Regions from separate parts of the Homo sapiens genome. Here region 2 is linked to region 1. A link means that fine-mapping ties the variant in region 1 to the expression of a gene that starts in the linked region. Tissue or cell type: monocytes. Region 1 holds a variant in brackets; the other region holds the start of a gene. All regions are shown on one strand. Distances are from middle to middle.

The links. PIP is the estimated chance that this variant, and not a neighbour inherited with it, causes the effect.
Region 2: ENTPD1 starts here. The variant in region 1 is fine-mapped to the expression of ENTPD1 in monocytes (Fairfax 2014, PIP 0.95).

Annotation. Positions count from the first base shown.
Region 1 is chr10:95,692,925-95,695,608 of GRCh38, forward strand. TCTN3 (tectonic family member 3) reads right to left here and starts at 1,003. Exons shown (of 14, transcript NM_015631.6): 1 at 720-1,003; 2 at 429-552; 3 at 1-114. The coding sequence starts at 975. It also overlaps a transcript of ENTPD1 not described here. RefSeq lists enhancers at 708-987, 1,462-1,963. The variant A/T (reference allele first, on the strand shown) is at 1,498.
Region 2 is chr10:95,754,971-95,757,654 of GRCh38, forward strand. It overlaps ENTPD1 (ectonucleoside triphosphate diphosphohydrolase 1), which reads left to right and starts at 1,193. Exons shown (of 10, transcript NM_001776.6): 1 at 1,193-1,285. The coding sequence starts at 1,270. It overlaps ENTPD1-AS1 (ENTPD1 antisense RNA 1), which reads right to left. Exons shown (of 6, transcript NR_038444.1): 6 at 1-1,744. RefSeq lists an enhancer at 754-1,053 and a silencer at 2,384-2,443.

The DNA of each region.
Region 1 (2,684 bases):
TTCACATGGACACAAAACTGCCTGATTCCATTAGAATCCATGAAAACTCTTGAAGGAAACGGGGAATTACTCCTGAAGATAACAGAGTTGTCTACACAAACCCAGCTTGAAGACCTGTGAGGAAAGAGGAGGGAGAAGATATATTTAGAAGGGGCGGGGCAGGTCCAAAAAAGAGTGTCCCAGCAATATCGGCCAGATGATGCCAAAGAGGACTCCTTGGGCACCTATAGGACGACACGAAGGTCTTATTCTACTGGCCAGCCCTGCTCTAGAGAATCAGAAAAGGCAATTCCTAGGAAAAACCAAGGGAATGTCCTAGGAGTGGAAGTACGGGTGGGAGGCACAAAGACTAACTCTTCTTACATCCAAATGTTACCCGTTGTAGGCCCCAAACCCCTTTAGGATTCAGTCTGAGCAACGAAGCTCACCTTACGCTGCCTGGAAGGCAGAAGGAGAAAACTGTCCTCGGATGGAGAAGATAGCAGTCCCTGTCGCAGCAGCAATTTATATCGCAGGCTCCAGGAGTCAAGTCACAGACACAGATCGGTAAGACTATGAAAGTACGACACAGAGTGAGTGGGATGAAGATCCCCAAACTCTCCCAGGTGCTCACCCTCCTTCTTCCGACAGCCCCACTCCTGCTTTGTGGCAGCTCAACTTTGCTCACAGAATTTTAGATCTCAGAAGTAAGTTTCCACCCCCACAACGTTTTCCCTCACCTGGGAAGAGGTCCACAGTCCTATTCCCAGGGGCCGAGGGAGTCACGAGAGTAGGGACCACTGTAGGGAGTCCAGGCACGGCCGGGCGAGTTGCAGTCGCCTCTGAAGGGGACTGGAGGGTTCCGCCATCCGTCCCTCGCTGCAGCTCCAAAGACGTGGGCACTGCCCCTGATGGGGAGGAAGAGGGCTGAGGCCGGACGCCATCGGGGAACACCAGAAAGAACACTTGCAGGAGCGCGAGCTGTGGGGTGCGCATGGGGCATTCAGGGCCTCCGGGTCCGACGTAGGCCTCCGCGGTCTCCAATCGCATTGCCAGAGCGTGGGTGGGAGGAGTCGCATAGCGTCTGACGCCATCCGCGTGCCTCTTCTCATTGGCTCATGAGAAGGCTGAGAGCTCTTCAACCAATCGAAAGTGGGGTTGTTACAGCTCTTTCAGTGTCCTTCGGTCTGCGCCCTCCTCCTTAACGCGGGCCGGGCCGTGCCTCCGTTGCCTGGCAACCGTCAGTGACGAAGAAGCCCTTGCGCCTTCCTTCCGCTAGGTGGCGGTAGGAGTTCGGCGGACCGAGAGGTTCCGCGCCCACTTCGCGGCCCAGAGGACTGAGCCCGGCCTCCGGTGCAAGGAAACCCCAGAGGCCGGAACTAGAATTGCAAATTTTTTTTCACCCCGGATTCCAACGGTGAGAAACCCTTTCTATGGAAGAATAATGTTCTCAGGTGGGGGAAACACACCTAAGGTCACATACCTTAAAAAACAGTCTCCTCTAAATATGGCTTTTTT[A/T]AAAAAAAAAAAAACACATTAGAAATAATGTTCATTCAGCTCCTTACATTTTAACATTGAGAAATTTTGAAAACCCTAAAGAAATGCATCAAATCATTAAAGATGGACTGCATGTTTGTTGTTAGAAAAAGCAGTGAGAGAAAAATAAGAAAAAAGGGCAGGAAAAATGTGAGAAAATAGGGAGAGAAAGAATAAAAAAAAGAAACATTGTCTAGGAGGTGAGAAAATAAGATGGAGGAATGGAAATAGAAGATTTTTTTCCCCGTGTTAATGGCAAATTTTTTAAGCCTCTCTAGGAGGTTTTTGTTCTTCCCGGGAATGGCGTGCCTCTTCCGATTCCCCACAGCAGCGCGGGCCATGGGACTTTCCTTCGGTATTGGAAATGTACCGTAGCTGCACTGTCCAGCATGGTAGTCACCGGCCTTATGTGGCAATTGTGCGCTTGAAATGTGGCTAGCGTGACTGAGGAGCTGATTTTTTTTTTTTTTTTTTTTTTTGAGACGGTGTTTCGCTCTGTCGCTCAGGCTGGAGTGCAGTGGTGTGATCTCAGCTCACTGCAACCTCTGCCTCTAGGATTCAGGTGATTCTTCTGTTTCAGCCTCCTGAGTAGCTGGGATGACAGGCACGCGCCACCACGCCCGGCTAATTTTATTTTTATTTTTAGTAGAGATGGGGTTTCACCATGTTGTCCAGGCTGGTCTCGAATTCCTGACCTCAAGTGACCCTCCCGCCTTGGCCTCCTAAAGTGCTGGGATTACAGCTGTGAGTCGCTGTGCCTGGCCTGAATTTTTAATTTTTAAATTGTAATTAATTCAAAGTTAACCACAGACGTGAGTAGCTACCATATTGTACAGTGGGACTGTAGATGATCAAAATATTGCTCCTCCTAGACCCAGTATTTTCCTATGTCCACGGTTCTGACATCTGGATTATTTTGGATATTTAGTTTTAGTATATAAATTAACATCTGTTAAGAGTTATCTAAAATCTAGTACACTTACCTAAAATCTGGTCAACACCTCCCTTTACAAGTGAATCATTTAACTCAGGTAAGTTTTAGGACATTTGACTTTACTTGAATTCTCTTACAAGATCTTTATTTTCTAATGTTTTGAAGTCAGTAGCTAAAAGTCTCTCTGTGTTATAAATATTTTCAAATATGTTTTTATGTTGTTGTGTGATAGACA
Region 2 (2,684 bases), 62 kb after region 1:
CGGGCTCACAAATTTAATGATTTATATGGTATAACTGGCTTTAGATACAAATTTACATGCCAGACAAGCAATGTAGAAAAATCAAGAACTAGGAAACAGGAAAACAGATCTACATTTCTGCTTTGCTGCAATTCATTCATTTTTTTCAACCATTCATCAAATATTTATTGAGAGCCCATGCTGTGAGAGAAACTGTATTAGGTGCTGGGGAACATGGTAGCAAATAAGAGAGACCATGTATGTGAGCATGAGCAGGTGGCTTAACCTCTCCACATCTCTAACCTCTTTTAGACTCAATGTCTGAGGTATCTTTCAGACCTGAAATGCTAAGGTTTGCAACAGCCTTGTGGAGGGAGAAGCTGCCAAGTCGCCTTGGGACTTGAGGACTTACCTTCCTTTCAAAGGATTAGCCCTTGTTTTGATTTCAAAATAATTTTGTTACACAGTTTAAAAATAATTTGGTCAGGCTCTCATCTACATTGGGGTAATCTTGACGGTCTGGATGTGGTAATTCATGCTCATTAGACTTCAAAGGTAGGAAGTCAAAGTTGGGAAATGGTGGATGACTTTCATCAATTCATAGCCAGGCAGCGGTTCCCATTGAGCAGCTCCTCTGTGGTTCCACCCAGCCTTCCAACCAATAACGCAGCGTCTCCTGCAGGAAACTCATCGCTTGGGTCACCTGTTGCTCTTTGCTCTAATGAGCCTTGAGAAAGGATTGCTGGTCATGGGACCAGAGGCTTTATGGGGAGGGAAGAACTGTTCTTGACTTTCAGTTTTTCGAGCGGGTTTCAAGGTAACAACTTTCTTATTATCTAGCTTCATAATTGCAGTAAGGAATAGCTTTTTTTGCTTGCAGCTGAGATGACTTTTTCAAGGGAGAAAAAGGGATTTCTATAACGAAGAGAGGGAGAGAGAGATGAAGAGGGAGGGAGTAAGGGAGAGAGGGAAGAAGGGAGAAAGAGAGAGAGATTTGAATATACATTGCTTCAAGGATGCAAAAAATTACAACCTGGAAAAGGCTTCGAGTAACTTTAGGAAAATGAGCTGCTGGACTCCTCAGTCAATCTGTCCTTTCTAGTCAATGAAAAAGACAGGGTTTGAGGTTCCTTCCGAAACGGGGCCGGCTAATTTAGCCCCTCCCACGAGCCCAAGGGTCTGTTATATCTCTGTTTCCTTGAGGACCTCTCTCACGGAGACGGACCACAGCAAGCAGAGGCTGGGGGGGGGAAAGACGAGGAAAGAGGAGGAAAACAAAAGCTGCTACTTATGGAAGATACAAAGGGTAAGACCAAAATTGATTTGATCTGAATCCTTAAGAAAAAAAAAATAGAAGGAAAAATAAAAGCCCAGACCAAAAAGCAAGTACTTGAAAGCTGGAGGCAAAAAGCCCTGAATGAACTTTCCCACCCTCTTCCTTCTGAGAGGAGGCAGAGAAAGAGCTTTGGGAAACTTTTTAGGAAGCAGAGTCCAGGGTTGCAGTCAAGGGTGGCTCTAGAGCAAGCTGGAGGGGCTCATGAATATTCATTATCAATTTGTATTCAGAGTTGGTTTTTTTAGAGGCAAATGACTTTTTCAGTCCCCTTGCAGTTTAAGAGGCAGCTGCCTCATCTGCAGTCCGGACTCATCTAGCCTCGGGTCTGTACCTCAGGGTGTTTGCTTGAAGATGCTGGGCTCTGCGTGTAGATTTGTTTTGTTCTCGAATTTCTTGCATGCTTTCCTGTTGTGAAATTAGCAAAGGCTTCTTTGCTGGGAACAAGACAGAGAAGTTAATGTGGCACAAGGCTGTCACAACAGGACCCCAGAGTATGTCTTTCAAAATGCTGAAAGTTTCTTGAGATATGTGGGGGAGTTTTATGTGGGGGACAGAGTGGGGGACGGGGACGGGTAGAGGGAGGAAATAGAATAATTCTATCTTAAAAGGGCAGGTCACATCTGACTACATTTAGATTTTGTCTAAAAACTACAAGAGCAGCCTGGTTTGCACAGATGGTGTGCAGTCTCTATCTTTTACCTCTTTTGGGCATTTTCTGCCAAGACGGAGAGCCAGCTGCTTGCCAGCGTGTGAGAGCCAGGAAGAATCTCTGCAGCAGTGAGGGAGTATAGGGTTGTAAACCTCCTTCTCCTCCTTCTTTATCATCTCTAACTTCTAACATTCCCACATGCTTATACCGTATAGAACATGGAAGAATAGCATGAGTAGCCAACATATTTCTTAATACTTACAATAATGATAGCTGTTAATGTTGACTAAGTCTTTATTCTGTGTTGGGAGCTATACCTAGCATATTACATGTGCTACTTACTTGTCACATGAACCTTACAAGTGCTATCATTGACATTCCCATTTTCCAGATGGCATAATTGAGGTACTGAGAGGATAACTTGCCTTGAGATCTCATAGTTAGTAAGGGCTGAGTGTGGATGGAGGTGGTCTGAGGCAGGGCTGGTGGGCTTTTCCACTCCCCAATACTGTTTCTCTGCTTTTTCTGGTGCCCTGACATTGTGGATTTCAGGTTTGCAAATCCTTGAAGCTACTGGGGAAGTGATACTGGTAAAATCTTAAGTCTGTGAAGGAATTTGTACTTTGCACTCAAGTTCACATACATTTTCCTCATTTGGTGCTCATGGCCATTCTCTATGAGAAGCAGGTATTGTTATTATGGTCTTTTGCAAAAAGGAGA